Homo sapiens: one gene and its partners. The protein of the gene in region 4 interacts with the protein of the main gene of each other region in a pairwise test. Each region holds a gene or a part of one and is shown on either strand. Other genes may lie near its edges. The genes, in order: TMEM71, SLC14A2, RASGRP4 and SEC22A.

Region 1 (7,634 bases), on a different chromosome or scaffold from region 4:
GTACCCACCAAAAAAAAAAAAAAGTTTTGGAATGTATGTCAGTTCAAGCAATGTGTCATAAATAACAAGATAAAATTACCTACTGTTATACAGGGCTGTCATTAGAAAATTTCTGCAAATAATTACTTTCTTCAATCACTATAAAATAAAAGACTATGCTATTTTCACAGTTTAGGGCTTGCCTTTTGATTTAATGTTGGGGAAAGGCTTTGTAGAGTTTATGATAATGTAAGAAATCTAATTCTGTCATTGTGATAATAATAATGTCTAAAATCTGTAAAGTGCCTTATAATTCACAAAGAGCTTGTATACGTTAGTTCACTTAAACAGCACAACAACGCTGTGAGGTGGATGCCATTATCTTAGTTCTGCAAAGAGAAGAAAAAGACTAAGAGAAATGATGAACTTGTCCAAGGTCACATAGCTATGAGGTGTCACAGCCAAGATTTAAAAACCACATCTAGACAGAACATAACATTTTGTCTGAAGTGGGCAGGGAAAGACAATTGCAACTTTGCATAATGGAAGTCTCTAAAGACAAAAAATGAGAACATATATTATGAAATATTTGTCTTTGAAAACTCTTTGCAATCAGTACAATATTTCAGTACTGCCAAGCCACAGTAGAAACTACAAATTATCCAGCAATTATAAGCATAAGAGTTAATTCAATCATGAACCTCAGTATTATTCTAATCACCTTAAATAAATTAAAGCTGATTTGAGGATTACCACATAAAAAACCTAAAGGAGAATATAAACAGACCTCAACTTAATTTTTGCCAAATGCTTCAAAAGCTCAATTTTGCAACAGTTGTTTAAAACTTGGAATGACTTTATGTTATGAATGCATTTATTTTTGCTATTTATGCCATGAATGAGGATTGAGTCAGCTAACAAAACCTACTTAGCCCATAATGCGGGTGGAATGCTGAAGATTGGCAATTCAAAATATCACAGTAGTAAATTATGTCACTGCAAATGTACAGTTGTTCATGTACATTGTGAATTCAGTTATTGTGGGTTCAACTGAATACTCAACCATCCTTCTAAAGTGTGTTTCTATTCTTAGCCTCCCCTGATTTCATGTGGAATTTGGAAAACATTTCCTCAGAAACAAATCTAGCTTGAAAAACTGCAAAGATCACTAGACTTGGATACTGAAGGATGAATGGGTTTAGATTTGAGATCTACAAAGATATGAGTTGTGTGATTTGGGATGAATTATTCATGGATTCCTTCCTTAAGTTGCCATTTGCTGAATACCTTTTTCAGCTCAGCTCAGGTGTAACCTCCTTTAGGAAGCCTACCTTGATTCTACTGGCTCCTCCTTGGCCCTTAGCTGCTCCCTCCCTGTGCTCCCATTATACCTTGTTCATATCTCTGCTAACTCTCTTTTCACATGGAATTAAAAATTCTATAATATTTCTCAATATTCCCCCACTAAACTGCAAGCTCATTGAGAAAATAGCATTGATTTCCTGTTCTCTGGGGACAGTGCTCATATTTTCCTTGAGGAATCACCTCTCCCCCTCTCTTGGTACACAGTTTAGGTGAAGTGACTGATTTTTTCTGACTTTCCTCCTAGCATTTGATTCCTTTCAAGCTTTTCGGAGTTTCACATATATCAGGGGAACCCACCCCCAACATTTCAACGTAGGTTCTCCCTATTTTCCCTAAGTGTCAGCCAGTCTGAGAAATAAACAGAAAGAGTACAAAGAGAGGAATTTTACAGCTGGGCTGCCGGGGGTGACATCACATACTGGTAGGACTGTGATGCCCACCTGAGCCGTAAAACCAGCAAGTTTTATTGAGGATTTTAAAAGGGGAGGGGGTGCAAGAACAGCAAGTAGGTCACAAAGATCACATGCTTCAAAGGGCAAAAAGGAGAACAAAGATCACATGCTTCTGAGGAAACAGGGACAGGGCAAAATCAGAAACTCCCAATAAGGGACTATGTTCAGCGGTGCACATACTGTCTTGATAAACATCTTAACAGAAAACAGAGTTCGAGAGCAGAGAACCGGTCTGACCTCAAATTTACCAGGGCTGGGGTTTCCCAATCCTAGTAAGCCTGAGGGTACTGCAGGAGACCAGGGCATATCTCAGTCCTTATCTCAACGGCATAGGACAGACACTCCCAGAGCAGCCGTTTATAGACCTCCCTCCAGGAATGCAATTCTTTTCCTAGGGTCTTAATATTAATATTCCTTGCTAGGAAAAGAATTTAGCGATGTCTCTCCTACTTGCACATCCATTTATAGGCTCTCTGCAAGAAGAAATATATAGCTGTTTTTGCCCGACCCCGCAGGCAGTCAGACTTTATGGTTGTCTTCCCTTGTTCCCTAAAATCGCTGTTATTCTGTTGGTTTTCAAGGTGCACTGATTTCATATTGTTCAAACACACATGTTTTACAATCAATTTGTACAGTTAACGCAATCATCACAGTGCTCCTGAGGTGACGTACAGCCTCAGCTTATGAAGATGACAGGATTAAGAGATTAAAATAAAGAGAGGCATAACAAATTATGAAAGCATTATTAGAGAAGTGATAAATGTCCATGAACTCTTCACAACTTATGTTCCTCTGCCGCAGCTCCAGCTAGTCCCTCCATTCAGGGTCCCTGACTTTCTGCAGCACACATACTTATCAACAAAGTTTTGTTCATGTGAAACATGCCCTTCCAAAACCAATAAAACTCAATTACTGGCCTCTTGTCATTAGCCTAGACAGATGTAATCTCTTTCTGCAGAACTGGAAACTGGAAAGGTGTAGGCACAGAGCCACCAGGATCCACCATGTATGGAGGGCCTTTTTTTCTTTTCTTTTCTTTTCTTTTTTTTCTTTTTTTTTTTTAACAGGGTCTCACTCTATTTCCCAGGCTGCAGTGCAGTGCATGATCTTGGCTCACTGCAGCCTTGACTTCTTAGGCTCAGGTGATTCTCCCACCTCAGCTTCCCAGCTAGCTGGAAATTCAGGCATGCACCACTATGCCCAGATAATTTTTTGTAGAAATGGGGTCTCACCATGTTGCCTAGGCTGGTCTCCAACTCCTGGGCTCAAACGATCCTGTCACCTCAGCCTCCTGAGTAGCTGGGACTACAGGCATGAGACACCATGACTGACTAATTTTTGTATTTTTTGTAGAGACAAGGTCTCACTATGTCACCCAGGCTGGTCTGGTACAACCTTTTAAAGAGTAACACAGACACAGAAGAGAAGAGACAACAAAAGACAGAGAATGCCAGGATCCTGCACTGTAAGCCTGGAATTTTCATTAAGATGAGCCAATAAATTCTATTGATTAATCCACTTTGAGTTGGGTTTCCATCCATTGGAACTCAAAAATCTTCAACTGATACAACTGATGTATCTGCCTATATCTTTGGCACCTGGAAAAGAACACACATGCAATACCTACATGTGAAGGGCTTAATGGAAGATGGAGACCTTGTCCACCCAGGACTTCATAGCTTAGTGAGAAAGAGGAAAATAAACAGTTTCTATAGTGATATATAGAGTGCTAGGGAATCAAGGCGAAGTGAAGCGCTACCTCCACCAGCCAGAAGGGGGTAGAGAAGGTGCATAGAGGTGGTCTCATTTAATTTGAGACTTGAGGAAGAGTAGGAGGCCACCCAGGTATAGCAGGTGGGAGAGAGATTCCAGACCCAGCAAAGAGCTTATATTTGTTCTTACAAAACTCTTGGCAAAGAGTACAAAGGTTAACTTTACCTGTCTGAATCTGAATATTCTTATGTGTAAAATGGAGGTAGCACACTTATTAATTGGTCCACCAGTAATGAAGCATCATCTCTGTGCCTATGTGGGCATTTTGGAATTCACAGATGACAATGACCTAGTGCTTATCTTTAAGGAGCTCACAGAGGCAAACATGCAGTGACAGTGCAAATAATGGGCATGAGAAAGAGAAGTCCTGGGAGCTAGGGGAGCACCAAGAAGGGTGGGCTCCCTGGAGGAGGTGGCTATTGAGCCTTCTTAGGTGTTGATAACCTGTCATTTCAACACCTGGAAAGGGAACTATAAAAAAACAAAAACCAAACCAAAACAAAAAAAACCCTTGAACACTTATCTAGTAGCTGCACTAGGAACAAAATGTACAAAGCATATTGATCTTCAGGACTAGAAGAGTGATGGCCAGTGAAGTGAATATTTATGATTTTTTGAAAGCAAATAAACAGAAAATATTTTTTCCATTTAACTTCAATGTTATGTAACAATAACTTCACATTTACTGAGTATTCAATAGACATGACATAGTATGCTAAGTACTTTACATGAGTTATTTTAGTCATGACAAGGTAGGAATTATGATCCTCTCCATGTAGAGATAAAAATGAAGTTTGAGAGGGTTTGGTAAACTGCTTCTGAGTTATAGCTAAGGAGTAGGGATCTGGGCTTTTAATCTCAGCAAGCCAATGACAGAGTGGGCTCTTTCACCTTGGTGCAGCACCATGTCCAAACATGCTTAATCTGACATTAGCAAACCAGAGACTAAGGGACATGCTTGTTGAATTTATTACAGCTTTGCTCCTGCCAGAAAATACCAATGCCTTTATTATCTTTTGACTTTTCCTTGTCAGAAGCATAGCATTAAAGGATGTTCTTTTTGTTGTTTCCTCTTCTTCTTCTTCTTTTTTTTTTTTTTGGAGTCTTACTCTGTCACCCAGGCTGGAATGCAGTGGTATGATCTCGAGTGATCTCGACTCACTGCAACCTCCACCTCCCAGGTTCAAGTGACTCTCCCTGTCTCAGCCGCCAGAGTAGCTGGGATTACAGGCATGTGCCACCATGCCCAGCTAATTTTTCTATTTTTAGTAGAGATGGACTTTTGCCATGTTGGCCAGGCTGGCCTCAAACTCCTGACCTCAGGTGTTCCACCCGCCTCAGCCTCCCAAAATACTGAGATTACAGGTGTGAGCCACTGTGCCTTCTTATGTAGTATGTCCAATACACAGCTAAGAATTAAAATAGCAAACATCTGTGTATCTTCCACTTTGCTTTATTGAAGCCTAACATTTTACAAAATATTCTCAGAATTTTTTTTTTTTTTTGAGATGGAGTCTCGCTCTGTCACCCAGGATGGAGTGCAATGGCGCGATCTCAGCTCACTGCAACCTCTGCCTCCTGGGTTCATGCAATTCTCCTGCCTCAGCCTCCCGAGTAGCTGGGACTATAGGCACCCGCCACCATGCCCAGCTAATTTTTTGTATTTTTAGTAGAGACAGTGTTTCACCATGTTAGCCAGGATGGTCTTGATCTCCTGACCTTGTGATCCGCCCGCCTCGGCCTCCCAAAGTGCTGGGATTACAGGCCTGACCTGCCGTGCCCGGTCTCTGAATATTTTTTAAGTAAAACACTGCAGATCCAGTTACTGATGCCTCTAACATGACACCCAAAGGCAGTCATCTCCTCTGCAAAGGGTCACCTGGGCTTTGGCAGAGGCCCCATGTCCTCCCTTCCTCGCACAGGTTGGTACCAGCTCCTAACTGCATTTTAGTCATCTCCAAGTCATTCTCAGGCTCTGAAAGGAAGAATTCTTTGGGTGTGGCAAATATTTAAAACACCTGAACTCACCTGAATGATCCGAACTATTCTCTTGGAAACGTTCAGAAGCTGTCAACTGGGACTGAAGAGACAAGCTATGGGAGTTTCCTCCAGGAGGCTGAGATATGATGTGGCTGGAAGAGGAGGTGATCACAGACTCTGCATTCATCTTCCCTGACTCCCAGTCATCAGTCAGAGAAGAACAGTCTAAATCATCTGCTGAAAAAGCAGAGGGGTTCAGTGTGAGTGTGTGTGTGTGTGTGTGTGTGTGTGTGTGTGTGTTCAGTGACTGCTCAATGCACAGTTAGTTCCTAATAATCACAAAAATAGTAATATTGATACGGTATTGCACTACCATAGTGGGATGGGAGAAGGATTTTTGGATGAGATGAGATGATGTATTCGTCTGTTTTCATGCTGCTGATAAAGACTTTCCTGAGACTGGGTAATTTATAAAGAAAAAGAGATTTAATGGACTCACAGTTCCACATGGCTGGGGAGGCTTCACAATCATGGTGGAAGGCAAGGAGGAGCAAAGTCACATCTTACATGGATAGTGGCAGGTAAAGAGAGAATAAGAGTCAAGTGAAAAGAGAAATCCCTTGTAAAACCATCAGATCTCATGAGACTTATTCACTATCATGAGAACAGCATGAGAAAGACCCATCACCATGATTCAATACCCTCCCACCAGATCCCTCTCACAACATGTGGGAATTGTGGGAGCTACAATTCAATATGAGATTTGGGTGAGGACACAGGCAAACCATTTCAAATGGCATTTCAATTTGTCTTCATACTTGAAGGTTGAAGAGAAATATCTTCAGTGCAGAGATAAACAAAGGCCAGAGGCATCTTCAATGACACTGAAGTTTGTATAGATGGATTTAAAGGATATGTAGTCAGTATATGAACCTCACATCTTTATAGGACCAAACTTTACAGCAGTCAACTCTTTCTACTTCTGATTCATTTATTCATTCAACATTTATTGAATGTGACTATATATTAGAAACTGACCTAGCTGCTGGGATATAGTGGTGAATTAGAACAACATCTCTGTCCTTACATATTGCTGAGTGGCAGGGAAGAAAATATCTTGTGATAAGTGTCATGAAGGAAATTCTGCCTCTATAAAATACATTGAAATGCCTAGATAAAATATAGCAACCATCTGTTTAAATTTTTTTATTCAAAGAGGCTATTTCATACACACATAGCTTCAAGAACATGCACCCATTTTCTCCTATGATGATTCATACATAAATATATTTTACTTGCCCTAAACTTAGCCTGACATTCTCACAAAAAGTCAAGTTTATTGCAAAAGCATGCATGCAACTTCAAGTTTCAAACATGCTAAGATGATTCCTCATAACACTTGGTGTCTTCAATGTGAGGTCACCAAGGAATGAATTTTAATCCTTGATTCTTAGTTTGAGTCAGAGATTAGGGGATCCAAAACTCTATAAGCCAAAGCTTCCTTGGAAAGGATGAATGTGTTAAGAATGCCTTTCAACCACAGGGATAGTTAAGCACCACACCTCTGACTCAACCACTGGAAGTCTCCCATTTGGCTCACCTGGCATAAATGTACCTAGGAATTCTCTTGGTTCTGTCTTGAGTGGTCTGTGTCACATTCCAGGGTTTAACTTTACTCTTATGATCTTGGGTAAGAATTCGTGCCAGTTTAGAGCTCATTGACTTGGAAGCAAAGCCACTCAGAAAGAGTAGCCAGAGTCCTGCTTTGGGATGTAGGTGTTTTCTAAGCTGACATCTAAAAGGGACTGCACATGCCCAACAAATGTACTTTTCTTTATAGCTGAGCTCAAAAGAAGGAAATATTCCCAAAGGCCAAGCCAGGGAAACCTATAACTCTAAGCATACGCTGTGGACAAAGCTGCCAAAAGGGGTGGGGAGAGGGCCTTAGAAGTCATAGTAGTCAAAGGTCTATGGATTAAATGACATTAGGGACAGAAAAAAGGCCTTGGTCTCAAGAGAGGCAGAAAATTAAAACCGAGTTTCTGTAGGGACTCAAAATGCTATTTCCTCAATGAAAGGATGGCT
Region 2 (7,634 bases), on a different chromosome or scaffold from region 4:
ACCTCCTTAAATTTTGCATCCCACGTGTCTCCCTTGTCTCACCTTAGTCTTGCTCTTTGACACAACTTTTCCTCGTTTGCAAAATACGAATAGTAATACCAACCTTGAGAATTAGTGTTAAGGTAGAGATGACGTATTTAAAGTGCCTACTTTGTGGTGGGTGTTAGGTGAATGGCTACCTTTTATTTGGGCAATATGACAGCTACTTTTTTTTTTTTTAAGTAACTACAGTGTGCTGGCCTTAGGTTGGTGTAGCAAAAAGTAATTTTAAGAAGAGCAAATGAAAAAGACAGCAGCTTTACCCTTCGTATCTTGTTTAGAGTTCGTAGTCACTGTCATAAAATGCAAAAGAAAATATATCTACAAATTATCTTAAGGAAACAAATATGTGGCCATAGCTGATCCAGAACATCTTCCCGAGCAAGAATATTTGGAAAATTTTTATTATAAATTTATTTTTAAAAATAAGTTTATATAGATAATGTTCACAGAGTCTACAGATGTATTGAAATAGAACTTCTGTTTTAAATGTTCTGCTCAAAAGGAGTTTTGTTTGGTTTCCAGTCATATAACATCAAGAAATAAAGGATGTTCAAGGATGAGGACATACAAATCTACCAACTTGTTACAGTCGATCTAATTTCCTGGGACTCTGAACAAATATATAACAAAGAGGAGTCATTTGAAGGGTCTGTGGTTAATGTTTGAATGCTTAAGGTGAATCGCTGTAGAAGACGTAAATCACCCAATTCCATATGTAACGAGTAACCTGCATAAGAGTTGCTCAGCCAGTTTGCTCCAACCCCCGCCAGGAGAGTAGCAATCACAGGAGACAGCCCAGGAACAACAATCAAACCTCCACCACCGTCTTCATGTGACTGAACGTTGAGTATTCAGTGAAAATAGTGTTTAATCTATTAATTACTAAATAACCATTAAAAAACATAAAAAAACAGTTTTATGTAAAAAGCCTTTTATAAAGGAAACAAATCCTCTGTGGGGAGTACCTACCGCAGGCGATGGCGAGGAGGTGCGTCTGCCAGGTGATGACGTAGAACATGCCTCCTATCGCTATGCATGCGAGGGTGCTGTTGAAGCCACACAGGCCGAAGTAGATGGAGTCAAAGGGCGTCGCAATAGTGAGTGCTGTGACAGAAGGCAGGCATCAGGGTTGGGTCTAGGGTCTTATGGGGCCCATCTGCTGGCCCTGAAACCTACCACAGTCCTCAAAGCCCGGAGCCAGTTATCTTCTTAGGTAGTTATACAAAAAGGACTTCTGGCTTTATTCTGTGAAAAAACATCTAAAGGAAACAAATGGCCATAGAGTCCCATGAATACTAGCAGTTAAGCTGGCATGGGTTGAAGAGATTCTTTGAGTAAGGACAGAAGTCTGATTTAAACAGTCCAGAGAATATCCTTCCCCTGCCAAGAAAGAGAACCTCTCCTCCTTCATCGATACCTTAATTCTCTAATGGAGAACGAATCTTTCTTGCTGTCATTGCAGATCACTTAACATGTAAATATACCTGGAAGAAACTTCCCCCAAACTTTAAATTTATACTAAGGTGTGAATGACTAACACCAAAGCCTTTCTTGAGGGCAGCTGTGGCTCAGGGGAGGATAAAGGGGCTAGATCAAAAACGGAGAAACAGGGTACAACAGAAGGAGGGAAAGTTCACAGGAATCAGCAGGTGGAGTGTTGAAGATGAGAGTCACCATTTTATTTGGAGCTGGCCCCAGGCTCTAACCCCCTCACAGCCCAGGGAAGTGAGGACACAGACCTGCTAGCATCCCCATGGTGGATCCAATTGCTGCATGCAAGCAAATGAGAGGTGAGGATATGAACAGAGCTATGAGGAAGATGCCTCCAGTCCAGGGGTTATCACAGCCGTACACTTGGCCAATTCCAACGGGGATGGCTCTCAAAAGCTGTAGGCATAACAGGATTACATGCTCATTATGGAGGCAAAAGAGACAACTTGACCTTGGCTGCAAGAGACTTGGCACTGAACCCTTCCCACTAACATTTTGCAATGGATGTCCAGGATTTTTGTTTCTATTCAAATAGGTTAACTTTAACAGGAACAAAAGCTTTATTATCTTAATCTTGAGTTCTTAGAACACTGATGGATTAGGATGTTGAGTTTCCTTTATTTAGAAATATGAGCGTGAGGCATTTATCCCTCAGGGAAGAGAAACTGAAAACCTTTCAAGGTAGGGTACTATTGATTAGAAAAGTAATATATGTCTGATCAAAGTTGGGGTTTAAAAACCCTTTGTGAATTTTTTTTTTTTTTTTGAGATGGAGTTTCGCTCTTGTTGCCCAGGCTGGAGTGCAATGGCGTGATCTTGGCTCACTGCAACCTCCGCCTCCCGGGTTCAAGAGATTCTCTTGCCTCAGCCTCCCGAGTAGCTGGGATTACAGGCATATGCCGCCATGCCTGGCTAATGTTGTATTTTTAGTAGAGATGAGGTTTTTCCATGTTGATCAGGCTGGTCTTGAACTCCTGACCTCAGGTGATCCGCCTGCCTTGGTCTCCCAAAGTGCTGGGATTACAGGCGTGAGCCACCACGCCTGGCCATGATTTTTTTTTAAAGCTAAAAAGATGATGAGAAGGTGAAATATTAGACAAAAAAATGGCCCTGTGTGTTTTCAAGTACAACATGTTTGGGGTGTGATTTTGTTAGTAAGGTCTGGAGGAGGAACTCGACTAGTATCTACAGGAGCGGCCAGGAGAAGGTAGTATCGCCCAGCATCTGCTATTTTGATTAATAAACCCCCAGGGCACCCTGCTTGATTCCGTGCTCCATCTATCTCTGGGGCTGGTGGGGCCTGTCTGTGAATGGAAAAACACTTGAAAAAGTCTGGTGCCTTGTGGGCACCTGCACAAAGGTCCGAGAGTTTGGGAAGAGGATCCTGGAAATGCGGGCTTCCCCAGCCACAGGGACTGTGTTTTGGAGGGTCTAGCCAAGGCCCATGGGCAGGAAGCTGAGGAGAGGCAGTGTCCTGGGGCGAGTCCCTGTATATAGATTAAGGCAAGGACGCTCTTCTCTAGAGAACTCTTCCCTCTGCGCGTGGCCGGGGAGGGAGATCCTGCAGCTCGGGGGCCCTCACGCCACAGTGAGTGTGTACAGGAGACAGGCTGAGTGGGTTAGGCTTTGGGCTTAGTCTCCTGTTACCCAGGGCAGAGAACAGAATGAGGGCTCTGGCCTCACCATGCAGGGCAAAGGGGACAGGCGAGAGAGAGTTGCACATACAGAAGCAGCAGCATGGGCAGTTTTGTCCTCAGCCAGTTGCACCCTTCAGAGGGCTCTCAGTGGTCACAAGAGCAGAGGAAGCCGTGGGGACTCAACATTGCTGGGAAGTTTAGACAATCCCTCTGAAATTCACCACTTATTTATCAGAAACTCAAGGCTCTAATTTTAAAGGTCAAAAAGACAAAACATATGAGTCATTGTCATAATCCATTCAGTTGGCCAGAAAGTTACTTCTTAAAGAATAATGCCACAAAATTGAATTTTTCTTTCCTGGAACACTGGTGGAGTGGTGGTGGTGGTGGTGGTGGGTCTCAAGTGTTTGTACAGGATTATTCATTTTTTTCCATTTCTATAAAATTTCAAAATTTCTTCTCAACTGAAACTGTGACATATAGAATGCAATATCTAAAATCTGCATTTTCTGACATCATTTCCCCATAGCATGCCACTTAGAGCAAGTTTGTCTCCAAAAGATATTAATTGGGTAGACTAAGAACGGGCAGCTTAAGAAGCTGAACTGCCAGCACAGCACCTTTTCTTGTTTCTGGTCCAAGAAGGTCCTCACACACACAAAATGATCAAGGATCCGACTAACACAAATAGTTCTCAGCCAGGTGTAATGGTCCACGCCTGTAATCCCAGCACTTTGGGAGGCTGAGGTGGCATGATCGCTTGAGGCCAGAGGTTTGAGACCAGCCTGGGCAACAATGACAAGAGCGATCTCTACAAAAAAATATAAAGAATTAGCTGGGCCTGGTGGCACATGACTGTAGTCCCAGCTACTCAGAAGGCTGAGGTGGGAGGATCCCTTGAACACAGGAGTTTGAGGCTGCAGTGAGCTGTGATTGCGTCACTGCACTCCAGCCGGGGTGACAGAATGAGACTCTATCTCTGAAACAAAAACAGAAACCCCAAAATCGAATAGTTTTCTTGCTAAATACTGGTGCTTCTCAGTGTAAATTCAGGGCTCTTTCTACTACACCACGCTGTTGCTTACTGTGGAAAGCTAAGAGAAACGAGGCATCATTATTTTAGAGAAAGTTCCTTCAACAAGCCCAAGTGATTTTGTGGTCAGATGATGAGTTGCCAATAACGAAGTCTCAGAGTGAGCGCCAGACTGTGGAGCCGTTTCGTGTAACGGAAAGTAGGAGGGCCTTGGAGAAAACGTGCCTTGTTAGATAAGGTGGCTGGCTAATAGGCACATTTCTCTAGGCTGACTTAATACTGTGAGTGCAGCTTCTTATTAATCACCTTGGCTGACTTCCAGAGGTCAGGATTATATACAGAATACTTATTAAAAAAAACTTTAAAAGCTCTGTTATATGTTTCTTAATGAAAGAACACCTGTGCTTTAAAACCAACAGCATGGTGTAGTAGAAAAAGCCCTGAGTTTACACTGAGAAGCACCAGTATTTAGCAAGAAAACGATTTGATTTTGGGGTTTTTGTTTTTGTTTTGGAGATAGAGTCTCATGGAGTGCAGTGACACAATCACAGCGCACTGCAGCCTCAAACTCCTGGGCTCAAGCGATCCTCCCACCTCAGCCTTCTGAGTAGCTGGGACTATAGGCATGTGCCACCAGGCCCAGCTTTGGTGAGTGAAGGGAATAAACTCTGGAGGTTGGAACAACGACTTCTTAAGCCAATAGATGGTAGCATGATGTGTACGACTTGAATGATTCCGTGTGATTGAATGAAAGAAAATGCACAACGCAAGCTGTAAGCCTCAAAAAGACTTTTTAAACATCCACAAAGAGCCCAGGCTGGAAGTCAGGAGGCTGAAGTTCTAGTCTTGACTTTGCTCCTCCCTAATTGGCTGTAAGACCTAAGGCAGGTCTCTTAACGTGGCCGCAGTTTCCTTCTCTGTGCTATCATAGAGTGAGACCAAAACTAGCCCTTTTTGCTCTCAGAAGTAGAAAAGGATGGCAGCTCATGAGATATATATGTAGAATGCTTGGTACTGTGTAATTGTTAAAAATTATTACTTGTGGATGTTTCTGATGTGCAAAATATGCAAATGCCAGTAACATCCAGTGTGGACAGACCTGCCCTTCCTCCTTCCATGATACGTACCAAGGGCACTTGGACCTCTGACCAGGTGATGTTGGGCATGGCGGATGCAGGCTGCAGCAGCGTTGTGGGGAAGAAAAGGTTGTAGTGGCCCGTGGCTGCCAGGTACAAAGTCACAGTGATATTGAAGGGCAGTGTGAAGACTGGGAGGTCCCACTTGCTGAAGATGGTACCCAGGGCACTGGAGAGGATGGGGCTGATGGCAGAAGCATGAGAGATGCTGGTCAGGAAGCCGCCTGGTCATAACACTAGACTGTGCTGCAGTGGGGGCTCCCTGTGCCTTCCTAGAGAAAAGCAGCCTGCTGGGTATTCTCTGGAGCCTGACTGGCCCTGAGCAGGTCTTTCCCTGGGCCTCTTCCTCCCTGCACAGTGACAGGGTGGGGCACCCAGACTCAACTTCAGAAGAAGATATAAGGCAGGCAGTCTCAGAACTTCCTTCAGGAATCCTATAGCTCCATCCCCAGGCATCAGGTTGGGGAGGCCGAGGGGAGGGAATCACATTCATTCAACAAATGTTTTTTTGAGTGGCTGTGTGCATGGGCTTTGTGGCCAGGGTGCCCTGTGTTTTCTCAACATGGGGTAGAGCAGGCACTGAGGGCTTCCCCATGGCTGGGCCTTCAGCCTACCCTGGGAGGTGGTCTTGGTCTGCTCAGGGGTCCCAAGGATTTAGAAAAGCCGGGGTAGGGGAGGGTTGAAAAGATTTCCAGAAACTGACAGGACCCTATAGTGCAGCTCTTAACCAATGTGGGCCTCAGTTTCTTTCTCTGCACTCTGGCAGGGTGAGACCAAAAACCATTTAGATCTTAAAAGAATAATAAAGGGTGGTCGCTAATGGGATACTGTGTATAGACCTAGCATGGGGCTACCATGGTATAAACTTAGTTATTAGTCCAGTGGACATTTCTGATGTGCAAGCTAAATACATGCCACTTTAATATCACGTTTAGACAGACGGTCATGGGATTGGGATGAAAAGGTTGGTGGCCATTGATATGAACCCACAACCCTTCAAAAGCAAACTTACCAAGACATGGACATGATGATGACGGGTAGCAACAGCCACCAGTAGTAGTCACCTTTGTCTGAGAACACGGCCATCAGCAGCCCCACCAGCACCCCATTGTAGCCGTGAAATCCTGCAGCGATGGCCGACCTGGCAGGAGAGGGAGGGTCAGGTGGAGCAGGGGCTTCCCCAGGGCCCTTTACATTTTCCTATTGAGTCAGATTCTTTTTATCTGGGGCCTGACTACACACGCCTTCAAATAGACCACCCTTCTGGGAGTGGGGAAGGAAGACAACCCTATGAATCCTTCATATTTCTCTAGAAATATGTTGCTATGACAAAATAACCAGGGAACAGTCATTTTTAGTTGTCAGTGTCCTTATTTTGAGGATTTCTCAGCTGGGAAGAGGAAGAATGGTCCCCATGGGGAGTGACTTCTTGGCTACATGTTTGGACCCTGAGCCTCTGGGACTTACTTGTCCTGACTCAGGATGAGGGCTGTCAAGGTGGACATGATGGTACCCAGGCAGCCTGAGATCGCCCACCAGGGGTTCTGGATGAAGAGGCCGAGGATGATGAGGATGCCGCTGAGGGGGTTGTTCACAAACATCACTTGAGATGTGCCTCGGAGGACCCAGTCAAAGAACTGGAACACTGGGGACTTGTCTGAAATGGAACCGGGGCAGGAAGTAGGCAAGTGCTCAGTGTGGGCAGCCCTGGGTGGGCAGATGGAGGGTGTGAGGGAATCTGGATATCCGAAGTGGGTTTGCAGGAAGCCAGCCACCTGCTGTCACCTGCCACCAAAGATGGTAAACAAGGAACTCAAGAGAGCATCTGACTGCCAAGAAAACTCTTGAGACCCATCACCAGCCAGATGTGACCTCCAGGTTGTTTTTCTGGCAGGGGGGATTAGGTGCCCTGAGCTGCCTCTGACCCCTGTGGTGGTACCATGAATTTTCAAGAACATGTTCTTGCTGCATAGAGGGCATTAAACCCATGGGCTGAGCTCTGGAAAGATTGCTAAAGAGAACCTATTGGCATGGTAGACACAGTTCTCCCATGAACCATCCAGATGGCGTTTTTCTAGAATGCTGGCTCTAGAATCCCAATGCGAAAAACACCTGTCTGCAATATTCAGATGGGATATTTGAGATAGCAGAAGTGTTCTGTTCAGAAATGAGAGCTCATGAGCTCACACTCTTGCATGTATTGCTATTTATAGTTCAAGAGGCTGTATGTCTGTTTTAACAGCAAAACTCCCAGCTTCCAGGAAAGACCACAGTAACAGAGTGCAGTCTAGTCTA
Region 3 (8,429 bases), on a different chromosome or scaffold from region 4:
GATACATGTAATTAACTTGAATCATCCCCACACCATCCCCACCCCCTTCCACAAAACTGGTCCCTGATGCCAAAAAGCCTGGGGACCGCCGCTCAGGACTGCTCTGAATCTCCCAGGGAATCACAGTAGAAGACCCCTGGGACCACTCAAGACCCCTCAGGGAATCATAAGAACTCCTTCCCCAGGCATTGCCCCCAACTTCCTCTTGACTGCTTCCAGGGCATCCTGGAAGAGACTTCCTTTTGGCAGATCCCAGGATTACTCCTGGCCTACCAGGGACTCGGGAGAAGACCCCTGGAATCTCTTCTGTCCTCCCCAGGCAGAGGCATGGGAGGACCTGCCTTCAGGAATTGCCTCCTCAGGGCTCCCGTTTGGTCTCTAACACCCTCCCCTCCTTCCTCCCACAGCCCTCAAGAGAGCAAGGCTCTTGGACCAGTGTGATGGCTCACGCCTGTAATCCCAAAGCTTTGGGAGGCCAAGGTGGGTGGATCACTTGAGGCCAGGAGTTCGAGACCACCCCGGCCAACATGGTGAAACCCCCATCGCTACTAAAAATGCAAAAATTGGTCAGGCGTGATGGCGGGCGCCTGTAATCCCAGCTACTCAGGAGGCTGAGGCAGGAGGGTCGCTTGAACCCAGGAGGTGGAGGCTGCAGTGAGCCGGAACTGCATCACTGTGCTCCAACCTGGGTGACAGAGTGATTTCTGTTTCAAAAATAATAATAAAAAAATTAAAAAGAGAGGCCAGTCACAGTGGCTCACGCCTGTAGTCCCAGCACTTTGGGAGGCTGAGGTGGGTGGATCACTTGAGGTCAGGAGTTCGAGACCAGCCTGGCCAACATGGTGAAACCCCATCTCTATTAAAAATACAAAAATTAGCCAGGCGTGGTGGTGGGCTCCTGTAATCCCAGCTACTCAGGAGGCTGAGGCAGAAGACTTGCTTGAACCCAGGAGGCGGAGGTTGCAGTGAGCCGAGATCGTGCCACTGCACTCCAGCCTGGGCAACAGAGCGAGTCTTAGTCTCAAAATAATAATAATAATAATAGTAATAATAGTAATAATAATTCTCCCTCTGCCTGGTGCCTCCCAGAGGCTGCTGTTCCTGATAGGGGAAGAGGGTAATGGAGAGACAAGGATGGTGGGAGCAGGGAGGCTGCTGAATCCAAGCTTCAGACGAAAGTAGAATCCAGAAATTTTTGCCAGCTGTTGTGACTTCGTGTTAGTCACTTAATTTCTCTGGGGCTCAATTTCCTCGAAGGAAAAATGAGGATAGTCCTTGGACCTTCTCCAGGGATTTCTTTTTTCTTTCTTTCTTTCTTTTTTTGGAGACAGGGTCTCACTCTGTCACCCAGGCTGGAGTGCAGTGGTGCGATCTCAGCTCACTGCAACCTCCACCTCCCGGGTTCAAGCAATTCTCCTGCCTCAGCCTCCCAAGTAGTTGGGACTACAGGCACGTGCCACCACGCCGAGCTAATTTTTGTATTTTTAGTAGAAATGGGGTTTCACCATGTTGGCCAGGCTGGTTTCAAACTCCTGGGCCCAACTGATCCTCCCACCTTTGCCTCTGAAAGTGCTGGGATTACAGGTGTGAGCCATCACGCCAGGCTCCCACCTCTACCCTTTTTCAGACAGGGTCTTGCTCTGTCTCCCAGGCTGGAGCACAGTTGTGCAATCAAAGCTCATTGTAACCTTGAACTCCTGGACTCGAGTGATCCTCCTGCCTTAGTCTCCCAGGTAGCTGGGACTACAGGTGTGCACGACCATACCCAGCTAATTTTGTGTGTGTGTTTGGGTGTGTGTCAATGGGGGGGGGGGTCTCACTATATTTCTCAGGCTGGTCTAGAACTCCTGGCTTCAAGTTCTCCTTGTCTTATCCTCCCAAAGTGCTGGGATTAGAGGCATGAGCCATCGTTACTAGAAGGGACATTTTAAAGTATTATATATGTCCTAGGCTAAGGAAGGAGCATTCTAACTAAGTCAGCATTTCCCTAAGTGTGGGCACCCAGCTAGTACCAAAAGCATCACCTGGGAACTGGATATCAATACAGATTCTCAGGTCCCAACCCAGACCTACAAAATCAAACACTTTAAGGCTAAGGGTGGTGGCTCATGCCTCTAATCCCAGCACTTTGGGAGGCCGAGGTGGGTGGATCACGAGGTCAAGAGATCGAGACCATCCTGCCCAACATGGTGAAACCCCATCTCTACTAAAAATACAAAAAAGTAGCTGGGTGTGGTGGTGCACACCTGTAGTCCCAGCTACTTGGGAGGCTGAGGCAGGATGATCGCTTGAACCCGGGAGGCAGAGGTTGCAGTGAGCCAAGATTGTGCCACTGCACTCCAGCCTGGCGGCAGAGCGAGACTCCGTCTCAAAAAAAAAAAACAAAAAAAAAAAAACCAAACACTTTAAAGGTAAGCCCAGCAACCTGTATTTTACAAGCCCTCCAGACAGTTCTGAGGCTCGCTCCAGTTTGAGAACCACTGGTCTAGAGTGTCTCATTGAGTACTTACAGGCCTCTCCGAGGTAGAGGATATGATTGTTCTACTGACAGAAGAAAAACCCGAGACACAGAGCAGTTAAGTGACTTACCTAAGGTCACACAGCTAGGAAATTAGGCAGCCAGGAGTCTACCACTAAACTGCTGGGTGGGGAGGAAAGCCCTTTGCCCATCAGAGTGGTGCTGGGGGTGGCAGGAGGAGTTACCCAGGCTAGGGAGCCACCCACCATCTGCCTCTGTGGGGACAGAAGGGCCAGCTTGCCCAGGAGATGAAGCCCATTCCAGAACCGGCCGCACAGCCAGCCACTAGGCCCTGTCCTGCAGCCCCCTGTAGGGGTCTGGAACAGCCAGGAGTGGTTTAAGAGGCAGGGGAGTCGCCTTGCCCTGTGCCACACTCCCCTCTCCTGGGCCAGGCCCTGCAGGAGCCTGGAGTTTCCAGTCCACGGGGATGGGGAACCAGGAAGCCCCCAGGGAGGGCAGAGACACTCAGCCCAGGCCAGGGATGGAGGTGGGGTGATGAGGAGTGGAAAAGGGGCACGGAGCAGCTCAAACTCCAGGGACAACACGGTACAGATGCCACATACAAGCGACTGCAGCCGTAGCTGGCTCCAGACTCCCTGAAGCATCCACCTGGCCCCCCTGCGCCTGATCCCAAAGAAGTCAGGAATCCTGCCACCCTGGCGAGTGATCTCCCCAGCCCTCCCATGCAGAGGGAGGCCTCAGGGTGCTGCCGGGCTCCCTGGGGAGGGTCCTCTCACCTCTTACTGTCTTTTCTGTTCATGCTTCCCGCGTGGGGTGAGGAGGCCGGGGGTCTTGCAAGAGTAGGGCTCAGCTCCTCCCCTTGCCCAGGACTCCAGCTTCTCAGCCCCTAGGGAGCTGGGGCCTCCTCGGTGCTTGGGAAGGAAAGAGGAACTGCCCCTCCCCACCCACCCTCAGGCCAGGGGGAAGGAAGAGGCTGGGGAGAGACCGAAGGCCCCCCTCCCCCACACGGGGATCCCTTCTGCTGAGGTTTCCGGCATCGCTGGCTCTCCCACCCTCAAGCTCCCCGGCGGGCTCTCTATCTCCCCCATCTTTCGGTGTCGAGACCCGTCACTGTCATACTTCAATAAAAGAAGGGGCTTTTCTTTTTAAAGCATGACTGATATTTATGTAAAAACACACACACTCACTCAAAAAGATAAGTCTGTCTGTCTAGAAGGACATATTCATATATATAATTCATGAAGGTTTGAATGGAAACTCACAAGACATAGTATTTTGTATATTTCTTCATAGGCGTCTCTTATTCCTAGTTTAAGTGATACCATTTGTACCCTGGAAAACATTTTCACTTTCTGACTTTATTGTAACAAACCTCCACATAGCACCTACTGTGTACCACACACTGCTGTAAGGACTTTAAAAATATTAACTCATTTAATCCTCACACAATCCACTGTTACCTTAAAAAAAATTACATACCGGACCAGGCACGGGGGCTCACAGGGGCTCACGCCTGTCATCCAGCACTTTGGGAGGCCAAGGCAGGCGGATCGCTTGAGTCTAAGAGTTTGAGACCAGCTTGAACAACGTGACAAAACCCCGTCTCTACAAAAAATGTAAAACGTTAGGCCGGTGTGGTGGCTCACTCCTGCAATCCCAGCACTTTGGGAGGCCGAGGTGGGCGGATCACCTGAGGTTGGGAGTTTAAGACCAGCCTGAGCAACATGGAGAAACCCCGTCTCTACTAAAAATACAAAATTAGCCAGGCGTTGTGGCACATGCCTGTAATCCCAGCTACTCGGCAGGCTGAGGCAGGAGAATTGCTTGAACCCAGGAGGCGGAGGTTGCCGTGAGCCGAGATCGCGCCATTGCACTCCAGCCTGGGCAACAGGAGCGAAACTCTGTCTCAAAAAAAAAAAGTTAGCTGAGCGTAGTGATGCACACTTGTAGTCCCAGCTACTCAGGAGGCTGAGGCTAGAAGATTGCTTGAGCCCAAGGAGGTCGAGGCTGCAGTGAACCATGATGGTGCCACTGCACTTCAGTCTGCGTGGCAGAGCCAGACCCTGTCTCAAAAAACAAAAAACAAAAAAAAAAAACACACACACACATCAAAAAACATTAGAGATGGAGGTAAAGCCTTGGGGAAGCCCCTCCCCATCCCCTGCCTTTCTTAAGCAGGGTGTGACCAATATGACACGTTGTCGAGTTTCGTCCAAACTGCTGTCTGTGCGTTTAAGCACATCATATAAACATGTGCTCCTAGAAACAGACTTTTCTTTTGAGTGTGCATTTTTTTCTTTTTACCTAAATGTGTCATGCTCGACACTTTTTTTTAAATTGAAGTACAAAAAAGATCACGAATCATTAAGTATTTAGGTTGATGAAATGTCACCAACTGAGCAAACCTGTGTGACATTCATACAAATCCAGACACAGAACATTCTCACCCTCCACAAGCCCCCTGTCTTTCTTCCCAGCACGAATTCCCACAGATCCCCACTCGCCCGAAGTCTGGCGCAGTAGTTTTGTCTTGTTTTGAGCTGGATAAAAATGGACTCCTGTATTGAATCTGGGTTCTTTCTCTCCACGTCTTGTCTTTGCAGTTCTTCCATGTTATCATATTTGGTTATAATTTATTCCTTTTTTTGGCCGGGCGCGGTGGCTCACGCCTGTAATCCCAGCACTTTGGGAGGCTGAGATGGGCAGATCACTTGAGGTCAGGAGTTCGAGACCCGTCTGGCCAACATGGTGAAACTCCCATCTCTACTACAAATACAAAAATGAGCCAGGTGTGGTGGTGCGTGCCTGTAATCCCAGCTACTTGGGAGGCTGAGGCAGGAGAATCGCTTGAACCCGGGAGGAGGAGGTTGTAGCGAGCCGAGATTGCACCACTGCACTTCAGCTTGGGCGACAGAGCGAGACTCTGTCTCAAAATAATAATAATAATAATAATAATAATAATTCCATATAGTCTTTCATTATGTGACAATTCCATGACTTATATATATATATTTATTTATTTAGAGATAGGTGTTGTGGATAGTGACTAAGCGGGCTGGTGGCATGCTAACTTCTATTTTTTTTTTTTATTTTTGAGACAGAGTCCTGCTCTGTCGCCCAGTCTGGAGTGCAGTGGCGTGATCTCAGCTCACTGCAACCTCTGCGATTGAAGCGATTCTCCTGCCTCAGCCTCCCCAGTATCTGGGATCACAGGTGTGTGCCACCACACCCAGCTAATTTTTGTAGAGACGGGGTTTTGCCATATTGGCCAGGCTGGTCTTGAACTCCTGGTCTCAAATAATCCACCCGCCTCAGCCTCCCAAAGTGCTGGGGTTACAGGCGTGAGTCACAGCACTAAGTTCTATTTTTCATCAGTCTAGAGTCTGGTAATAACTAGACACTAAAACATTTTAAGTTAAGTGAGTTATCTATACAAGAGGACTATATGTCCTAGACTGTAAAAAAAAGACAAACTTATAGCTTCTCTGTTTTTTTTTTTTATTTTTATTTGGTCCTACCAACCTGACTCTTTTTTCTTAATTAAGACTCCACAGCAGGGTCTCCCTCTGTCACCAAGGTTGGAGTGCAGTGGCGAGATCCTAGCTCACTGCGGCCTCGGACTCCTGGGCTTAAGCCATCTTCCCACCTCAGCCTCCTGAGTGGCTAGGACTACAAGTGCACACCACTGTGCTCTGCTAATTTTTTTTTTATTATTTTCCTGTAGAAACAGGGTCTTACTTTGTTGCCTAGGCTGATCTCGAACTCCTAGGCTCAAGCAATCGTCCTTCCTATGCCTCCAAATTGCTGACTCTCCAGGCGTGAACCACTGTCCCCGGCCTCCGTGATTTATTGATCAATTTTCCTGTGATGGACATCTGAGTTGTTTCCAGGTTGGGGCTGCTGTGACTATTTGAGCATCTGACTTTTGATGAACATAGAGTGTACCATATTGTAGGGCAGTACCCAGGAGTGGAATAAATGGGTCATAGTAGTTACTGTGATTCTACCAAACATAGCATGTTAGCAATTCATTGAAATCGTTCTCTCAGAAGTATATTTTTCCACTTTTTTTTTCACTAAAAGAAAGAACCGTGGATGTATATTTTTTCCAATGCAGAACATTTAGACAGTCACTGAACTCGCCGTCTTTAGTTTTTCCATCACGCGATGTTACCATAGCTTCAGACTCTCTCTTCCTGCCCGTTTTCACCCTCTCTCCCCCTGGCCTCATGGTGTTCTGTCTGACTCTCTCAGACCATCTCCTGTAGCACCTGCATCTTGAATGTGACTTAACAATCCTGGCTGAGCAGAGACTTCGTAGTGTGGCAGTGTCTCCAGGCCCTGGGGACCCAGAAAAGCCTCAAGGAGGAGGTCAGAAATCCTGGCACTTGTTTCTACTGTACACAGGCAGCCTTAGTCCTCGGGCTGGCCAAGAATACCCACAATACCCGTGCTGATGACTACAAAGGAAGGGACTTCTGAATCAAACCACAGAAACTCCTAAGGCAGAAAAATGATGGACATGATAACATGCAAATACAGACTTTCTTCTTTTGTTGCTGTTCTTCTTTCTTTCTCTTTTAAATTTTAAAGATGGGGTCTTGCTATGTTGCCCAGGCTGGTCTCAAACTCCTGGGCTCAAGGGATCCTTTCACCTAGACCTCCCAAAGTGCTGAGATTACAGGCAGATTTTCTTTTAACGAAGACACCATGGGACAAATGTCAGATGACAGAAGGGGAAAAGGTGTTTGCAATATTTAAAAATCAATGAGATATTAATATCTAGAATATAGGTCAGGTGCAGTAGCTCATGCCTCTAATCCCAGCACTTTGAGAGGCTGAGGCGGGCAGATCACTTGAGATCAGGAGTTCGAGGCCAACCTGGCCAACGTGGCAAAACCCCGTCTCTATTAAAAATACAAAAATTAGCAGGGTGTGGTAGTGGGTATTGCTCTGTCATCCCGGCTACTTGGGAGGCTGAGGCATGAGAATCAGTTGAACCCAGGAGGTGGAGGTTGCAGTGAGCTGGGATTGAGCCACTGCACTCCAGCCTGGGAGACAGAATGGGACTCCATCTAAAAAAAAAAAAAAAAAAAAAGAATATAAAAGGAACAGCTGCAAATCAGCAAGCGAAAAAGACAGCAACCATAATAGAAAAATGGCCGGGCTCAGTGGCTCCTGCGCCTATAATGTAAGATTACATGCTTGTAATCTCAGCACTTTGGGAGACCGAGGTGGGTAGACTACCTGAGGTCAAGAGTTCAAGACCACCCTGGCCAACATGGCGAAACCCCGTCTCTACTCAAAATACAAAAATTAGGCTGGGCACAGTGGCTCACGCCTGCAATCCTAGCACTTTGGGAGGCCAAGGCAGGCGGATTGGCTGAGCTCAGGAGTTCGAGACCAGCCTGGGCAACACAGTGAAACCCGATCTCTACTAAAATACAAAAGAAATTAGCCAGGTGTGGCAGTATGCGCCTGTAGTCCTGGGGGTGCTGAGGCAGGAGAATTGCTTGAACCCAGGAGGCGGAGGTTGCAGTGAGCCGAGATGGTGCCACTGAACTCCAGCCTGGGCGACAGAGCAAGACTCTGTCTCAAAAAAAAAAAACAAAAAAAAGTGAGCAGGGATCACAATGAGCAGATAACAAAGAAACCCAAAACTCTGATAGGCACTTGAGAAGATGCTAGAAATTGTTGGTAACTCATCAGGGAAGTGGAAATTAAAATGACAGCGAGTCCAGGCGCGGTGGCTCTTGCCTGTAATCCTAACACTTTGGGAAGCTGAGGTAGGAGGATCACTTGAGACCAGCAGTTCAATACCAGCCTGGGCAATATAGTAAGACCCCACCTCTATAAAAAATTTAAAAGTTAGTTGGGCGTGGTGGCACAAGCCTGTTGTCCCAGCTGCTCGGGAGGTTGAGGTGGGAGGATCCCTTGAGCCCAGGAGTTC
Region 4 (7,328 bases):
TCACTAGTTCCATGCTAGTGCGAAGAGCCCTGCACTAGATCAGGGTTGTGTGTGCTTAGCTATGTGAACTGGCTAAGTCATTACCATCTGATCACCTCTGTGTCCTCCCCCTTAGAGTGAGGGCAGCTACTACTGCTCCTATGCTACAAAACTATGAGGAGGTAAACTCAGGCTTGCTCTTAGAAGTGCAATAGAAACAGAAGATCATACACCATGGAGGCCTAAAGTGATTCTTTCTAAAGAGCCTAAGGACTTTTTTTTTTTTTTGAGACAGAGTCTCACTCCGTCACCCAGGCTGGAGTGCAGTGGTGTGATCTCGGCTCACTGCAACCTCCGCCTCCTGGATTCAAGCGATTCTCCTGCCTCAGCCTCCCAAGCAGCTGGTACTATAGGCGCCTGCCACCACGCCCAGCTTATTTTTTTTGGTATTTTTAGTAGAGACGGGGTTTCACTATGTTGACCAGGCTGGTCTCAAACTCCTGACCTCGTGATCCACCCACCTTGAGCTCCCAAAGTGCTGGGATTACAGGCATGAGCCACCGTGCCCGGCCAGGACTTTACACCAATTTCTTTTTCTAAATTCAAAGTTCTTTTTTTGGCAGCAATGATACAGGTGGGGAAATGATATAAACACGGAGATACAGGCACCAAATAATGAAAGAAAACATTTCTATACATAAAACATTTATACCTGTTTTCATTTTTTTACATTAAGATGTAAACATCCTCTTATCCAAAATAGCCAGTGAAAAAATAAAAACAAAAACAAAGTAAGCCTTTAAAAATAGTTGGTGAGGAGTTTTCAAGTGTTCTTGCTGAATGTATCCGAATACCAAACATTGTAACTCGTCAATTCAATGACAAGGAGGTAGCTCCTGAACCAAACTGGTGCGAGCTGTGTCAATACAGAGCAAAATCTCAACCAGAATGCTCCAACTTCCCTATTTACAAGAAAATTCTGTTTTAACCATTAGTTTAGAAAACCTTTCTTTTTTGAGACAGAGTCTCGCTCTGTTGGCCAGGCTGGAGTACAGTGGCGTGATCTTGGCTCACTGCCAACTTCCACCTCCTGGGTTCAAGCGATTCTCCTGCCTCAGCCTCCCGAGTAGCTGGGACTAAAGGCACGCGCAACCACACCCAGCTAAATTTTGTATTTTTAGTAGAGATGAGGTTTCACCACGTTGGCCAGGCTGATTCTCAAACTACTGGTCTCAAGTGATCTGCCTGTCTCGGCCTCCCAAAGTGCTGGGATTACAGGCCTGAGTCACCGTGCCTGGCCTGAAACCCTTTCTAAATTGAACCACTTCACTTTCCTGGCTACAAAATGCCCAACACAATTCAATGGTGTTTTGATGATTCAGGATCTTGTGATGCCTTGGGGTATCTCTCAGAATATGCATACTTTTGTTAGAGGAGAAGACTGGAGCCAACTACTATTTCCTGTTTTACATGAATCCCTGATATCATAAGCTTATTGTCTTCCTTTTACCTCATTCTCCTAAAAGGAGGGTGCAGACTAAGGTTCTAGTTAAGCAAGATTTTACAGTTCTAGACATATCCACAAATACTGGTTCACGCAAACAAGACAGTTCACTAACTTTTTACCCTCTATTTCTCTACTTAATAAATATGCCTAGTAACAACAATTACAATGTAATGGGATCTGTTTTTCTGGATGATATCAAATTTCAGTATCCTATGAATTCCTTGTTTGAAATATTTTCTTTAAAAAACAAAGGAAAATCACCCATGAAGATGACTTCCAAAACCATGAGAGTTATAGATTTTGCTAGTGGAATCCAACTGTGCTTCCTATATTATTAATTCATAACTGCTTAAACAATCTTTAAAACGTTATCAAAAAACAAGTAAGTTCTCTCAGATACTAGGGGCTTAATTCCTCAAAGCCATAAAATAATGAGTTGCTAGGAAAGCCACCTTCTGATTCTTACTACAGTCAAGCATTTCCATAGTGCGGACCCATGCCACTGGTGGCACACAACATGTCTTTAAGTGATGCACAACATAGAATAATGCTGAATCACAGTGAGAATGTCATTCCCTTTACAGTTTCCTTTTATCCTCTGACTATTCCAGAGACAGTGCCTCATGCTGGTGCTGGTAACATCTCCCTCACTGCCACAAAGAAAGAGCCTAAGATTCGGAGCCTTTCTAGGCATTAGTTTCTAGCTAGAACTGAACAACATTTTTTGTGTTCATCTTACTTATTTTGTGGTTACCTTTTATTTATGGCAAACTGATACTGGTTTTCCACTTGGAGCAGGATTCATTTTTTTAAAAAAACTTTAAAATTTAAAAGATAAATATTAAGAAAATAATACAAGTAGTACTAAAGAGACTGAAGTTTGGGAAACAACGGCTATAGTGTGAGTCATATTTTTTAGACGTGATTTCAAAAGAAACAATAAATGTGGATTAGAAAGGAAACATCCATTACTGTATTTTCGATACTTGTGATGTTCCACAGACGAGCTCATCACAGTCTTCTTCTACATCAGGTGATTTCCAGAGTTAAGATTCAAGCAAAAATATAAAAGTAAAAAGAACCAATTTCACACCATCTTGGACTTTATAAACTCGTAGTACCATAAGTGTGCAAATAATCTGATATTTATCACAGTCATTTATTTAAAACATAAACTTTCCAATTTCTGCAGCTTTTTATTTGGTCTATACTAATGCCTCACAAAGGCAAACTCAGGTTGTAGAGTTCCTCCTGCCTGGTCCTCAGAGCAATACCACATCTATTTTCTGAACTCTTCAGGAAGGATTCAGGACTGCTGGCCAAGACTTCCAATGGCATATGACTGTTCTTCCACTGTTACGGCCTTGAAGAGAGAAATCCCCTCCTCCTCTGAATGATAGTCTCATGGCCAACATTCTTCTGAGAGGACTCTTCCATGCTCACAGGCACATCATGCTGATTTTAAAAAAGGAAAGTTGGAGAGAAAGAAAGCAGAGCTTCTCCTCTGTGGGGAACAGCTTCTTCATCACAGTGCAGTTATGATATGTTCCCTCCTTATCCCCCTGAAGCCAAGGCAATAGATCTGAAGGATGGTGTCAGACATCATAATCGGGAGCCTTGCCCTGGGCTTGCCTTAGCCAGATCTGTAGTGTAACAAATGCTCCCACAGTCACATGAAAGAAAAGCTGCCAGAGGTTGCGCAGTTCATAGAGATACATGTTGCATAGACAGATTAAGCCAAAAGTCAAAAAAGATTTGACATTCCGCCAGCCGGTGTAGTAGACAAGTAAATAACACTGTTCAAAATATAAAAATGAAAGATGATTAGGGTTACAGGAAAAGAAACAGATGTTTCTAATATAAAATTGTAACAGGTCAGAGAGTAAAATATAAGAATGGATAAGGTTATTTTTTATCTAGGGATAAGATAATGTAGCATATATCTAAGACATTCAGCTATGAAAGTTTCACAGTTTGAAAGGGAAATAGATTTTCCTCTTAAGTTTTTCATTTTTCAGAAGAAAAGCATTTTGTATCATATTTTAAATGGAAGTACAATGGAATGACTTCCTTGCAAACAGGCTGAGCAAATTCCCCATGGTGACAGGCAACTAAGAAGCATTCCCAGGGTCTGCGGGTGTTCCATTCTCACCCAGGAAAATACAAAAAAGCACATACAAGCTATTCTACAAAATGGACTCTTAATATAACCTGAGTCTGAGTATTAACAAAATCCACAACATTTTACTAGTCGCCCACTGAGTACAAGGAACTATGCTAGGTACAGCATCTGACTGAACATTTGAGGGAGAATTCATTCAACAAATATTTACTCAGGGCCTGCTACAAGTCAGGCATTGTTCTTCAGTTGTAAGTAAAACAAAGCCCTTGTTCATATAAATATTAAATTTTAATGGGGAAGAATTATAAATGTATTTTAAATATATAATATCAAACAGTTATGTCTTGAAAAAGAGAAAGCAGGAAAAAGGGATAGGGAGTAAGAATGATAGTGGGTGCTATTTTAGATGAAACGGTCAAGAAAGTACTCCCCCTCTCACCGCTCCTGCCCATCCTGGCATTCACCCTTTACTGCTTTATTTTTCTCCACAACATACTATAAACATACTTGAGAAATGTGCTTATTTTGTTTGTCATCCATAGGCTTTCAACAGAATCTATTTCATGAGGGGTGAGATTTTTTACTGTTATTTACTCATTTATCTCCAGTGCCCAGAACAGTGCCTGGGACATAGTAAGTGCTCAATGTGTTGAGTGAATAAACTGTTTTCTAGAAGATGTCTAAAATTCACAACCTGGTAAGTATAGGAACCACAAAGTCTAAGAGAGAGGCCCAGGTCTCTCTGAGAAACTGTGTCCAGGCTTCAGAATGGGAAGGACACACCAGTGTCTGTTATAATGCAGAAAGAATGTGGAAATGTTCTGTTAAATATGTTTAGTTCTTATGCAAATTTGGACTGTTTACTTAAAAAGAAGACTGCTATCCAAGCAAAATGAATTGGAAGTATTTATCAGTGATTTTCATCATATAAGACTGAAAAAATAGAAAAAAATAGCTTTTTCTTTCTAAACAATTTTAGAGTTAAAGATGCAAAAACAGTTTATTGTATACGCTTTGTTTACTGTATACTCTTCACCCTGTTCCCCGTTATCCTCTTATGTAATCATAGTATAATCATCAAACCAGGAAATGAACATTGATTCAATACTCTTAGCTAATCTACAGACTTTATTCAGATTTTGCCCATTGTCCCACTAGGGTCCTTTTTCTGGTCCAGAATCTAATCTGGGATTCTGTATTGCATTAATTGTCATGTATATTCCAATCTGTAACAGCTCCTCCATCTTTTTTTAAAAAAATTTTTGGCCAGGCATGGTGGCTCACACCTGTAATCCCAGCACTTTGGGAGGCCCAGGCAGGCGGATCACGAGGTCAGGAGATTGAGACCATCCTGGCTAACACAGTGAAACCCTGTCTCTACTAAAAATACAAAAAATTAGTCGGGTGTGGTGGCGGGCGCCTGTAGTCCCAGCTACTCGGGAAGCTGAGGCAGGAGAATGGCATGAACCTGGGAGGCGGAGGTTGCAGTGAGCCGAGATCACACCACTGCACTCCAGCCTGGGCAACAGAGCAAGACTCCATCTCAAAAAAAAAAAAAAAAAAAAAAAAATTCATGTCCTTGACAGTCTTGAAGAGTATTAATCAGTTATGTTGTAGGAATGTCCCTCAACTTGGGTGTGTCTGATGTTTTGTCAAGATTGAAATGAGGTTATACAATTTTGGCAAGAATATCAGAGGTGATACGCAATACATGTTATTACATATTAAATTAGATCACTTAATAAGGTGGTATCTATTCCCTTTGCAATTATTGTCTTGGGGGCAGGGAGTTGAGATTATGTGAATATCTTATCTCATCATACTTTTGCTCATTAATTTTAGTATCCATTAATGATTCTTGCCTGCAACAATGATTACTGTGGTGTTCGCTTAATGGTGATTTTATATTTCCATTTTTTATCTATATTTATTGCTTGGAATGCTACTGTAAAAATGAGCTAGCATTTCCAGTAATATATACACACACACACACACACACACACACACACACACACATATATTTAATTCAAGGTTTTCCAAGGCTTTTAAAATAATAGGTCTCTACCCCACATATTACTTATTAATTACAAAGAAGAAAAAGATATCTTTGCAATGGGGATCTGGTAGACACCATCTTAACCAAATGATCAAACTTATCACATTTCCTGACTGAAGCAATGAGAGATATTCAGCATATTATACTATACAGCACTGTTGCCAGAATATTTAACCTTAATATAATCACGAGTAACAGACTAATCCAGATTGTGGTACTTGCCTGAACTCTTAAAAAAGTCAATGTTAAGAAAGATAAAACCAAACTAAAATAGAACAACAACAAAAAGGCTGGGAGACTGTATCATAGATCAAAAGGTACACGACAATCAAATGAAATGCATAATCCTGGATCAGGAGAAATATAGCCACAGAAAACATTTTGGAGACAACAGAAATAATCTGAATAGGAATCATATATTAGATAATATTGTATCAATGTTAAATTCTTAGATGTGATATGAAGTCCTGGCTATGTAGACAGATGTCTGTATTCTTAGAAGATACATCATGAAGTATTTTAAGGTAAAAAATATCATGATGTCTGTAACTTACTTTAAAAACAACGGCTCAGGGACTTCTGTTTCTGGGAAGATGGAGTAGACACACTTTTCCCTATTTCTCCCACTAAGTACAAATAAAAACACTGGACATTATATGTAAAACAAGCATAAGAAGACTCTGAACTGTGGAGGAAAAGCAGACAAATAAAGAATCTTGAGATCCAAGAATGCCACAGTGGTAGGTTCTCTGAGTTTTCTTTTTTGCTTCATATATCCCAGACTTGGAGCTGAAGAAGCTGGCAACTAGAAATGCCAAGGCATGCATATCAAAACAAACAACAAAAAAGACCCTCAATAACATCTTGCTCTCTCTGGTAAAAGACCAGGAAAGAGGCACCTTAGCAAGACAGAAAACTTTTAAACAGTAACTATTATCCTCTAGCCAAACATCACACAAAAAACCCCTGTGACCCACCCATACCCACACCATCAAATGTTGAGAGCCTAGAACATTATAAGCAGATGTTTTAACCCTTCAGCATGGCTTCAGAAAAGGCAAGTAGAAGCCAGGACTTTCATTCCCACTAGATGGCAATGAATCCCTCCTCTACCCTCTTATTGTGATATCAGTGGAGAACACGTGGGACTCTGGACACCCACTTTCACTTGACAGTAACAAGATAATTCATTTCTCATCGGTAACAAGACAGTGGGATTCTCATCAGAAACCACAGAGGCCAGAAAAAAACTAGAACATTTCTCAAGTGCTGAAAGAAAAAAATACTGCCAAATCCAGAATTCTGTATTCAACAAAAATATCCTTTAGGAATAAAAGGAAAATAAAAACATTTATCAGATGAAAGATTAAGATAATTTGCTGCTAGCAGATCTACCATAAAAGAATGGTTAGAGGAAGCTCTCTAAATAGAAAGAAAACAATTAAAAAGAAGGAATCTTGAAACATTGGGAAAGAAAAAAGGACATGGTATGCAAAAATATGGGTAAATACAATAGGCTTTCCTTTTCCTCTTGAGTTTTCTAAATTATGTTTGATGGTTAAAAAAAAATCATTATAACACTGGCTGATGTGGTTCTAAATATATGTGGAGGAAATATCTGAGCCAATTATAAATAGGGGAGGGCAAAAACACATCTAGGGAGA

The links.
Region 1: the proteins of SEC22A (region 4) and TMEM71 interact in binary tests that used the Homo sapiens proteins (3 or more experiments, as listed by UniProt).
Region 2: the proteins of SEC22A (region 4) and SLC14A2 interact in binary tests that used the Homo sapiens proteins (3 or more experiments, as listed by UniProt).
Region 3: the proteins of SEC22A (region 4) and RASGRP4 interact in binary tests that used the Homo sapiens proteins (3 or more experiments, as listed by UniProt).

The regions. Positions count from the first base shown.
Region 1 is NC_000008.11:132,722,201-132,729,834, forward strand, and holds part of TMEM71 (transmembrane protein 71), read right to left. Parts: intron 6,112-7,634; coding exon of another isoform or gene 6,049-6,111; intron 5,787-6,048; coding exon 5,598-5,786; intron 1-5,597.
Region 2 is NC_000018.10:45,667,195-45,674,828, reverse strand, and holds part of SLC14A2 (urea transporter 2), read right to left. Parts: intron 6,997-7,634; coding exon 6,807-6,996; intron 6,481-6,806; coding exon 6,352-6,480; intron 5,524-6,351; coding exon 5,331-5,523; intron 1,930-5,330; coding exon 1,782-1,929; intron 1,147-1,781; coding exon 1,012-1,146; intron 1-1,011.
Region 3 is NC_000019.10:38,422,814-38,431,242, forward strand, and holds the start of RASGRP4 (RAS guanyl-releasing protein 4), read right to left. Parts: upstream 3,407-8,429; 5' UTR 3,279-3,406; coding exon 3,256-3,278; intron 1-3,255.
Region 4 is NC_000003.12:123,267,476-123,274,803, reverse strand, and holds the end of SEC22A (vesicle-trafficking protein SEC22a), read right to left. Parts: intron 3,283-7,328; coding exon 3,082-3,282; 3' UTR 668-3,081; downstream 1-667. UniProt on the Homo sapiens protein: May be involved in vesicle transport between the ER and the Golgi complex.